Linked DNA regions of Homo sapiens: regions 2, 3 and 4 are each linked to region 1. Evidence: fine-mapped expression QTL. A gene starts in region 1. Each other region holds a variant in brackets. All regions are shown on one strand. Distances are between the middles of the regions.

What was found. PIP is the estimated chance that this variant, and not a neighbour inherited with it, causes the effect. A credible set is the group of variants that fine-mapping cannot tell apart.
Region 2: its variant is the best candidate, but not a certain one, in a credible set for the expression of C9orf72 in prefrontal cortex (BrainSeq, PIP 0.53).
Region 3: its variant is the best candidate, but not a certain one, in a credible set for the expression of C9orf72 in liver (GTEx, PIP 0.85).
Region 4: its variant is the best candidate, but not a certain one, in a credible set for the expression of C9orf72 in nasal epithelium (TOPMed, PIP 0.89).

Annotation. Positions count from the first base shown.
Region 1 is chr9:27,571,931-27,574,622 of GRCh38, reverse strand. It overlaps C9orf72 (C9orf72-SMCR8 complex subunit), which reads left to right and starts at 1,142. Exons shown (of 11, transcript NM_018325.5): 1 at 1,142-1,192. RefSeq lists enhancers at 533-1,060, 1,659-1,748 and a silencer at 1,069-1,148.
Region 2 is chr9:27,542,338-27,545,029 of GRCh38, reverse strand. No RefSeq gene overlaps it. Among named protein-coding and RNA genes, the nearest start is that of MOB3B, 14 kb to the right of the region's middle. The variant G/A (reference allele first, on the strand shown) is at 1,095.
Region 3 is chr9:27,653,126-27,655,817 of GRCh38, reverse strand. No RefSeq gene overlaps it. Among named protein-coding and RNA genes, the nearest start is that of C9orf72, 81 kb to the right of the region's middle. The variant AG/G (reference allele first, on the strand shown) is at 1,218.
Region 4 is chr9:27,620,232-27,622,923 of GRCh38, reverse strand. No RefSeq gene overlaps it. Among named protein-coding and RNA genes, the nearest start is that of C9orf72, 48 kb to the right of the region's middle. The variant C/T (reference allele first, on the strand shown) is at 1,362.

The DNA of each region.
Region 1 (2,692 bases):
TGAGAGCCATTTTGTGTATTTATTCCTCCCTTTCTTCCTCGGTGAATGATTAAAACGTTCTGTGTGATTTTTAGTGATGAAAAAGATTAAATGCTACTCACTGTAGTAAGTGCCATCTCACACTTGCAGATCAAAAGGCACACAGTTTAAAAAACCTTTGTTTTTTTACACATCTGAGTGGTGTAAATGCTACTCATCTGTAGTAAGTGGAATCTATACACCTGCAGACCAAAAGACGCAAGGTTTCAAAAATCTTTGTGTTTTTTACACATCAAACAGAATGGTACGTTTTTCAAAAGTTAAAAAAAAACAACTCATCCACATATTGCAACTAGCAAAAATGACATTCCCCAGTGTGAAAATCATGCTTGAGAGAATTCTTACATGTAAAGGCAAAATTGCGATGACTTTGCAGGGGACCGTGGGATTCCCGCCCGCAGTGCCGGAGCTGTCCCCTACCAGGGTTTGCAGTGGAGTTTTGAATGCACTTAACAGTGTCTTACGGTAAAAACAAAATTTCATCCACCAATTATGTGTTGAGCGCCCACTGCCTACCAAGCACAAACAAAACCATTCAAAACCACGAAATCGTCTTCACTTTCTCCAGATCCAGCAGCCTCCCCTATTAAGGTTCGCACACGCTATTGCGCCAACGCTCCTCCAGAGCGGGTCTTAAGATAAAAGAACAGGACAAGTTGCCCCGCCCCATTTCGCTAGCCTCGTGAGAAAACGTCATCGCACATAGAAAACAGACAGACGTAACCTACGGTGTCCCGCTAGGAAAGAGAGGTGCGTCAAACAGCGACAAGTTCCGCCCACGTAAAAGATGACGCTTGGTGTGTCAGCCGTCCCTGCTGCCCGGTTGCTTCTCTTTTGGGGGCGGGGTCTAGCAAGAGCAGGTGTGGGTTTAGGAGGTGTGTGTTTTTGTTTTTCCCACCCTCTCTCCCCACTACTTGCTCTCACAGTACTCGCTGAGGGTGAACAAGAAAAGACCTGATAAAGATTAACCAGAAGAAAACAAGGAGGGAAACAACCGCAGCCTGTAGCAAGCTCTGGAACTCAGGAGTCGCGCGCTAGGGGCCGGGGCCGGGGCCGGGGCGTGGTCGGGGCGGGCCCGGGGGCGGGCCCGGGGCGGGGCTGCGGTTGCGGTGCCTGCGCCCGCGGCGGCGGAGGCGCAGGCGGTGGCGAGTGGGTGAGTGAGGAGGCGGCATCCTGGCGGGTGGCTGTTTGGGGTTCGGCTGCCGGGAAGAGGCGCGGGTAGAAGCGGGGGCTCTCCTCAGAGCTCGACGCATTTTTACTTTCCCTCTCATTTCTCTGACCGAAGCTGGGTGTCGGGCTTTCGCCTCTAGCGACTGGTGGAATTGCCTGCATCCGGGCCCCGGGCTTCCCGGCGGCGGCGGCGGCGGCGGCGGCGCAGGGACAAGGGATGGGGATCTGGCCTCTTCCTTGCTTTCCCGCCCTCAGTACCCGAGCTGTCTCCTTCCCGGGGACCCGCTGGGAGCGCTGCCGCTGCGGGCTCGAGAAAAGGGAGCCTCGGGTACTGAGAGGCCTCGCCTGGGGGAAGGCCGGAGGGTGGGCGGCGCGCGGCTTCTGCGGACCAAGTCGGGGTTCGCTAGGAACCCGAGACGGTCCCTGCCGGCGAGGAGATCATGCGGGATGAGATGGGGGTGTGGAGACGCCTGCACAATTTCAGCCCAAGCTTCTAGAGAGTGGTGATGACTTGCATATGAGGGCAGCAATGCAAGTCGGTGTGCTCCCCATTCTGTGGGACATGACCTGGTTGCTTCACAGCTCCGAGATGACACAGACTTGCTTAAAGGAAGTGACTATTGTGACTTGGGCATCACTTGACTGATGGTAATCAGTTGTCTAAAGAAGTGCACAGATTACATGTCCGTGTGCTCATTGGGTCTATCTGGCCGCGTTGAACACCACCAGGCTTTGTATTCAGAAACAGGAGGGAGGTCCTGCACTTTCCCAGGAGGGGTGGCCCTTTCAGATGCAATCGAGATTGTTAGGCTCTGGGAGAGTAGTTGCCTGGTTGTGGCAGTTGGTAAATTTCTATTCAAACAGTTGCCATGCACCAGTTGTTCACAACAAGGGTACGTAATCTGTCTGGCATTACTTCTACTTTTGTACAAAGGATCAAAAAAAAAAAAGATACTGTTAAGATATGATTTTTCTCAGACTTTGGGAAACTTTTAACATAATCTGTGAATATCACAGAAACAAGACTATCATATAGGGGATATTAATAACCTGGAGTCAGAATACTTGAAATACGGTGTCATTTGACACGGGCATTGTTGTCACCACCTCTGCCAAGGCCTGCCACTTTAGGAAAACCCTGAATCAGTTGGAAACTGCTACATGCTGATAGTACATCTGAAACAAGAACGAGAGTAATTACCACATTCCAGATTGTTCACTAAGCCAGCATTTACCTGCTCCAGGAAAAAATTACAAGCACCTTATGAAGTTGATAAAATATTTTGTTTGGCTATGTTGGCACTCCACAATTTGCTTTCAGAGAAACAAAGTAAACCAAGGAGGACTTCTGTTTTTCAAGTCTGCCCTCGGGTTCTATTCTACGTTAATTAGATAGTTCCCAGGAGGACTAGGTTAGCCTACCTATTGTCTGAGAAACTTGGAACTGTGAGAAATGGCCAGATAGTGATATGAACTTCACCTT
Region 2 (2,692 bases), 30 kb after region 1:
TAAATATAAACATTCAAAACACCCCAATTAAAAGTCAGAGATTGTTAATACCACATGATCTCACTTACACACAGAATTGAAAAACTTGGAACTCATAGAAGCAGAGAGTAAAAACATGGTTACCAGGTGCTGGGGAGAGGCGGTGGGCTGGGGAGATGTTGGTCAAAGTTAGACAGGAGGAATAAGTTCAAGAGATCTATTGTACAACTTATTCAGTTAGATAGGAGGAATAAGCTAAAGATCAAGAGATCTATTGTACAATGTGACTATAACCAACAACATATATTGTACACTTGAAAATTGCTAACAGTATCTTTTAAGTGTTCTCTCTACAAATAAATATGTGAGGTAATGTATATATTAATTAACTGTAGTCATTTCACAATGTATACTTATTTCAAAACATCATATTGTATGCTATAAATATATACAACTTTTATTTTTCAATTTTAGAAATGTCCTTAAAAAATCAGATTTTCAGATCAGATAAAAAAGCAAGACCCAACTATATGCTGCCAACAGGAAACACACCTTAAAAATAAAGGACGAACAAACAGATTAAAAGTAAAAGGATGGAGAAAAGATACATCATATTGGTAATTAGAAGAAAACTGGAGTGACAATATGAAACAAAATAGATTTCAGAGCAAAGAATATTACCAGGGGTAAAAATGATCATTTTATAATGATAAAAGAGTCAGTTCAGCAAAAGGATATAACAGTCCTAAATGTTTTTTCACCTCATAGCTGTGTCAAAATAGATGAAGCAAAAACTGATAGAACTGTAAGAAGTAGACAAGTCCACAATTATGTTTGGAGATTTTTTTTTTTTTTTTTTTTGTCGCCCAGGCTGGAGTGCAGTGGCAGGATCTCAGCTCACTGCAAGCTCCGCCTCCCAGGTTCACGCCATTCTCCTGCTTCAGCCTCCCCAGTAGCTGGGACTACAGGCGGCCACCACCACGCCTGGCTAATTTTTTTGTATTTTTAGTAGAGACGGGGTTTCACCGTGTTAGCCAGGATGGTCTCGATCTCCTGACCTCGTGATCTGCCTGCCTCGGCCTCCCAAAGTGCTGGGATTACAGGCATGAGCCACT[G/A]CACGCAGCCTGGAGATTTTAATATCCTTTCAATGTTTAGTAGAACAAGAATACACAAAATCAGTAAGGATATAGAAGATTAGAACAAGACTATCAAACAATTTGACTTAAATGACATTTGTAGAGCACAGCAGTCCCCAACAACAATAAATCACACATTCTTTCCAAGAGTACATGAAACATGTACCAAGATAGACCGTATTTTGAGCCATGAAACAAATCTTGATAAATTTAAAAGGATTCAAGTCATAGAAAATATGTTCTCTGACCACAATGGAATTAAATTATTAACCAATAACAAATATCTGGGAAAACCTCAAAAACTTGGACACCAGCGCTTTTAAAAGACTAAATAATTTCTAAATTATCTGTGTTGGGGGGAAAAGAGAAATGGATTAGAGAGCAAAAAGGGTATCAGAGTGCTGTGGTACGATTTTTATGAAGAGTGGAACAGAATCTGCCTTTGGCGTTTCCCCACTACAGCCCATTCTTCACATTGATAACAGCATGATCCTTCTAAAATTAAATCTAACGATCACTTCTGCTTAATGGCTCTCCAACACTTACAGAATTAGGTCCAAAATTCTAGCACAGTTTCTGTTCATCTTTCTAACCTTTCTTCCCACAGGTCTAGCTAGTACGTATTTCTTTTATTGCATTTATTACACTATTCCTTTGCTTATCTATCTCCCCACCTAGGCTAAAGAACAAGATTCTTGTCTTTTTCATTTTTGTGTCTCAGTGCCTAGCATGGTGCCAGGCACACAGCATGCTTCCAGTAAATGTTAGCTGGATGGATGTAATGAGTATATTAAATATTAATTTATTTGTTTTTCCCCAAAAAGAATTATTTCCTGCAAATCAAGGAAATTGCTTTCTTTATATAATCAAAAACTTATTTTCCCAGAAGATTCTTCATTAAAAATTAAGCCTATGCACAACCTAGCTCTAAAGTTTCAAAGATTTTAGGCAGCAATTTTTCAATCTTTTTGAAGTAATACATTTGAATCTTTTCAAATTTCTGTTTCTGCATTTGTGCCACACCATCTCATCTCTTGCTGAAATGTTTTTGTTAAATTAATTGCTTGATAAATTGCTAAGTACTTTTCATCAGACCAATTAGGACAATAGTAAGTATCCATCTGTGGAGCGCGGACATTCAAGAAATCTGATCCAGTATTTAGAAAGTCATTCCTGAGCTGAGTTGGCTCAAACTGGCACCTTCTGGCATTTGCTTGTGGGTGGGGAATGTGGAATGCTTTGAAAGCTGAATGAGTTTGTCAAGTTTTAAAATTCCCTTATGGCTAAAGGAAAACAACATTCATTGTTTAAAAACACCATTGTTTGTTTTTTCTGCTTTTTTGTTCTTTGGAGCCTGAATCTGCAAAAACACTCACACCCAGCATTTTGCTTCATGTACCACTCCTAAGATGTTTTTAGAGACTTGAATAGTGTCTCCGCACTACTTTTTATTGTGATTGTTCAGAATGTTCATAACAAATGGTAAAAAGTCAGTTTTAGTGCTCAAATTGAGTTTTATGGAGAAAGACCATAATTTATGTTTGTCATTGTAAATTGATAGGAGAATTTTTGGAAGT
Region 3 (2,692 bases), 81 kb before region 1:
TTTGAAATTGGTTCTGTTCTCAGCATTTCACTCTGGTATTTATTTAAAAGGCGTTTCAGCCTACTTCTTCTGTATTCATCTTGCTCCATATACCTAACCACTCCTTTCTACCCAATTCACAGGCTGATGATCCTGACACTGTCTCTCTGTCTCCAGCTCTCTTCTTTATGACCTTTACCACAGAGAATACTTCCCTTTTTCCATATATAAACTAAGCTCCCAGTTTCCTGAAATATAGGCAACACTACAAAAGACATTGCAGCATATCTGGAGTACTGAAACAGGAAAAGTTCCCTTGCCCCCTTCACAGGGTGTGCGATGGGGGTGTGGCTAGCTTCTTCAGTACCCCACTGCTCAAACTTTTAGGGGAGCACACAGGCAGGCAGGCTGTGGGGCTCTGACCCCACAGCAGTGTCTGGGAGTGAATGTTTACAGCTGAAGCTCCAGTGGGCATATGTTACAAGGTGCTCTTTTAGTTTAGCCATCCCGCTGCTTGTGTTAGTAAGCTCAATTAGACCCACGCGTTGTCGTAAGGACGGAGGGCTTTCTGTATCCTGGGGTTCTTGCCTTGGTGTACCGGAAGAATCGGATCACACATGGGCTTTGAGAATAAATGCAAGCTTTTATTGAATGGAAGTAGCACTTAGCAGATGAGAGAGCCAGAAGGGAGATGGTTTTCCCCTGGAGTCAGGCTGCACAGTAGCCTGGGCTCTCCTCCAACTGCCCCTGCCAAACTCTGCCTCATTCCGCTGGTCGATGGCCTGATGGCCTGTTGGCGTGCCAGTGTCTGTCATGTGCTCTTCCACCAGCATGCTCCCCTCTACATCCTCTCAACGTCCAGCCATTTGTGTCTTCTTCCACCAAGGTGTTCCTCTCAACGTCCAGCTGCTTGTGTGTCTGCCTGCTAGTCGCGGTTTTTATAGGATGGGGGCGTGGCGGGCCAGGGCGGTGCTGGGAAATGCAGCATTTGGGCGTGAAGGTAGAAGTGCCTGTCCTCACCTAGGTCCGTGGGCACAGGCCCAGGGGTGCAGCCCTCGCCGGGGCCCTGCCCTTCTCCTCCCAGCACTTCCTTGCTCCCCTTCCATATCACTACTGCCAGAGTATAAGAAGTTAAACACCAACTAAGATAAAAAGAAAGACTATGGCTCCTTTCTGCAGAAGAACTTTGATCAAATGTTTGTATTACAAATAAGGAGGTATTTATTTGAGGCTAAAAT[AG/G]ACCTAATTCTAAAATAAATAAAATAAAGCAAACATAAGAGAAATTTTAAATAAAAACCTTTACTCAGCAATTCTACCTTTGTTTAGTCAAGAGAAGTAAAATGCATGTCCATACAACTATTTGTGCAAGAATATTTATAAAAGCTTTGTTCATAATAGCACCATACTGGAGACAGTCTAAAAGTGCATTAGTAACAGAATACATAAACAGATTGCAGTATATCCACATAGTGAATATGTTCAACAATAAAAAGGAATGAAGTACTGATATATGCAATAGAATATATGAATATCCATAATGTTATGCTGAAATAAAGAAACCAAACACAAAAGAGTGCGTACTATATGATTCCATTTATATGAAATTCTAGAGAAAAGCAAAACTAATCTATGGTAACAGAAAGCAGACCAGCAGTTGACTGAGGCCAGGGATGGGGGTGATGGGGGAGATGACTACAAAGAGGCATGAGGCAATTTCTTGGGGTCATGGAAAGGTCTTGATTGAGATAGTGTTCCCATAGTCATATACATTTGCAGAATGTCATCAAAATGAACCTTTTAAATAGGTACATTTTACTGCACGTTAATTATACATTAAAGTCGACTTAAAAGCAAAACATCCTAAAGCTGGGCCTTTCCCAATTCTTATTACTGTAAAGACATAATTGACTTTAAGTGACATTGTTATTTACATAAATGTTAAAAATATTTTTATTTAACATAGATTCTTCATGCAGATACATTAATTTTCTTAGTCATAATTTAATGGAATTTAATAATTCATGATATTCATATGTCAGAGTGGTACAGTCATGTGTTACTTAATGATGGGGATACATTCTGAAAAATGTGTTATAGGTGATTTCATATTTGTGTAAACATCGTAGAGTGAACTTACATAAACCTAGAGGGTATAGCCTGCTACATACCTAGGCTATAGCATAGCCTATTGCTCCTAGACTACAAACTGGTACAGCATGTTACTGTACTGAATACTGCAGGCAGTTAAAATGATGAAAAGTATTTGTGTATCTAAACCTATTTAACATAGAAAAGGTACAATAAAAGTACTGGTATAAAAGATTTAAAATGGTACGCCTGTTCAGGGCACTTACCATAAATTAAGCTTGCAGGACTGTAAGTTACTCTGGGTGAGTCAGTGAGTGAGTGGTGAGTGAATGTGAAAGCCTAGAACTTTACTACACACTACTGTGGACTTTATAAACACTGTACACTTAGGCTACATTAAATTTATAAAAAGCTACTTTCTTCCTTCAATAATTAATTAGTCTTAGCTTGCTGTAACTTTTTAAATTTATAAGTTTGTTAGTTTTTTAACTTTTTGACTCATTTGTGATAACACTTAGCTTGAAACACAAACACATTGCACAACTATACAAAAATGTTTTCTTTCTTTATAGCCTTATTCTATAAGCTTTCTTCTGTTTTTATTTTTTTTTACTTGTTAAGCATT
Region 4 (2,692 bases), 48 kb before region 1:
TCTTCACCCTGGGGAACTGTTAAATGAGGAAATTGTGGTTCAAGGAGGAACTTGTCTATATGCTTTCTCAGCTTTCCCGTGGTAATTACCATCTTGATAATATAACGTAATGTATGTATATGTTATCAAATAATATAATATCTTCATCATATATTTATCATCTTCATAATGTTAGCTGTCTAGTGGTAACTTTTTTTTGCTCTTTATTGCCTCCCTCTTTTTTCCCTCTTTGTTGTTTTTTGTCATACAATTATGATATATGTGTATATATTCTCACTGTAAAGATGTAAACAACACAAAGATTATTGAACAAATCACGAAAGTAACCCTTCCTTCATTCTTACCCTATCCAACCCTCATCTCCTCAGAAGAATACACCATTTTAGTTGTAAATGTTTTTCTAGCTCTTTTTCAATGTTTCTACCTATATGCATGTATGTATAATGTATATACATACATATATACATACATATTGATATATACATATATAGAGGTATGGTTTTTTAACTTAAATGGAATTGCATTGTGGATATTGTCCTATGACTTGCTTTCAACCAAATTATATGTCTTGGAAATACATACATATATTTAAAAAATATGTTATGTATATGTAACATACTATATGTGCATAATATATATTACATAGATATAATAAGGCCTAGGAAGAAATTGTGTGCAACCTCTAGTACATCTTCCTCTATATCTACTGTACATACATACAACCCATTCTTTTTTTAATTTTTTTATTTTTTTAGACAGAATCTTGCTCTGTCGCCCAGGCTGGAGTGCAGTGGCACAATCTCGGCTCACTGCAAGCTCCACCTCCTGGGTTCACGCCATTCTCCTGCCTCAGCCTCCCAAGTAGCTGGGAATACAGGCACCTGCCATCAGGCCCAGCTAATTTTTTTTTGTATTTTTAGTACAGATGGGGTTTCACCGTGTTAGCCAGGATGGTCTCCATCTCCTGACCTCGTGATCCGCCCACCTCATCCTCCCAAAGTGCTGGGATTTACAGGCGTGAGCCACCGCGCCCAGCCACAACTCATTGCAGAGTAGTCCAAAATATGGATGGACTGTAGCTTAATTACTTATTCTCCCATTGATAGACACTTAGGACTTTTCTAATTTTTATAATTTAAAAATATGCTGCAATTAACAAACATTCTTGTGTATCTTTTTGCTGTATGTATGCATATTTCTTTAGTATGGGTTTTGGAAGAGGAATCACAAAGGAGGCATAGAATATAAATATTTTTATTTTGAAAAATACAGTTGTAATTTAATAACCCACCAAAAGACTCTAACAGTTTAGATTCACATCAACAGTGTAAGAACATGTCTGTTTTACTGCATCCTTACCC[C/T]CACTGGTTATAATACTTTTAATTAACAATCTTATGGATGAAGAATACTATCGCAATGTTGTTTTAATGCATTTTTCCAATTACTAGTGAGATTGAACATTAATTCTTTTATTTTATGGATCACTGGCTTTTCTCCTTCTGTGAACTACCTGTTCACATCCTCTGCTTTTCAGCTCTTGAGCTGTTATCTTTTTCTTATTGATTTATATGAGCTCTTTATATATTCAAGATGTTAATCATTTGTATTTTATGTATATGGCAATGATTTTCTTCCAAACCAATGCTTGTCTTTTATTTATTTATTTATTTATTTATTTATTTGAGACCGAGTCTCGCTCTGTCGCCCAGGCTGGAGTGCAGTGGCGCGATCTCGGCTCACTGCAAGCTCCGCCTCCCGGGTTCACGCCATTCTCCTGCCTCAGCCTCCTGAGTAGGTGGGACTACAGGCGCCCGCTGCCACACCCGGCTAATTTTTTGTATTTTTAGTAGAGACAGGGTTTCACCGTGTTAGCCAGGATGCTCTCTATCTCCTGACCTCGTGATCCGCCCGCCTCGGCCTTCCAAAGTGGTCGGATTACAGGCATGAGCCACCACGCCTGGCCAATGCTTGTCTTTTTATCTCTGTTTATGGCATCTTTCATACTATGGACATTTTTATTTTTATTTTTTATGTTGATTTATTCTTGAATTGTATACATGTTAATTATACCTAAGTTATTGTAATACCCTTAAAGCCAAGTTCTACACATATATTTAATTTGCTTTCCCAATAGGTCTCTGAGGGAACACATTTTTTCAAATCACTTTGTTTCATCTTTTTTAGGTGTTGATCAATTATTAAGGAGTTTGAAATAATCATTTAAACGGAATTCTTCAGATGAAAACATAAAGACATTTATCGGGTCAGAGCATTGGTCGGTTCACATACTCAGGATCAGTGGCCTGGGTGGGCAGGCACTGGGTGAATGGAGAGCTGCAGGTATTGGAAGAGAGCCCAGTTGGATATGTAGTTTCCAAAGATCATCAAGGCAGACAACCAAAGGGAAACCGTGGGAAACACCTGCTTTGGGCCATCTAAGATGAGATGATAAAGTAAGGAAAGAGTTGAGCCCAACACAGTGATAGCCAATCTGAAAGCGGGCAGAACTGACAAGACCAAACAAGTAGGTGAACTGGCTGCAGGCAGCCAGCCACCACAGGGACAGCGTGTACTCCAGGGACAAGCTCAAGGCTATAGGTAGTTAGTTCAAGGCTACTAGGGTGAGAAGAGCAGGAACTGAGTTCTATACCAGTGCTTCTCAAAACTAATGTGCATCCTAATCACCTGGAAA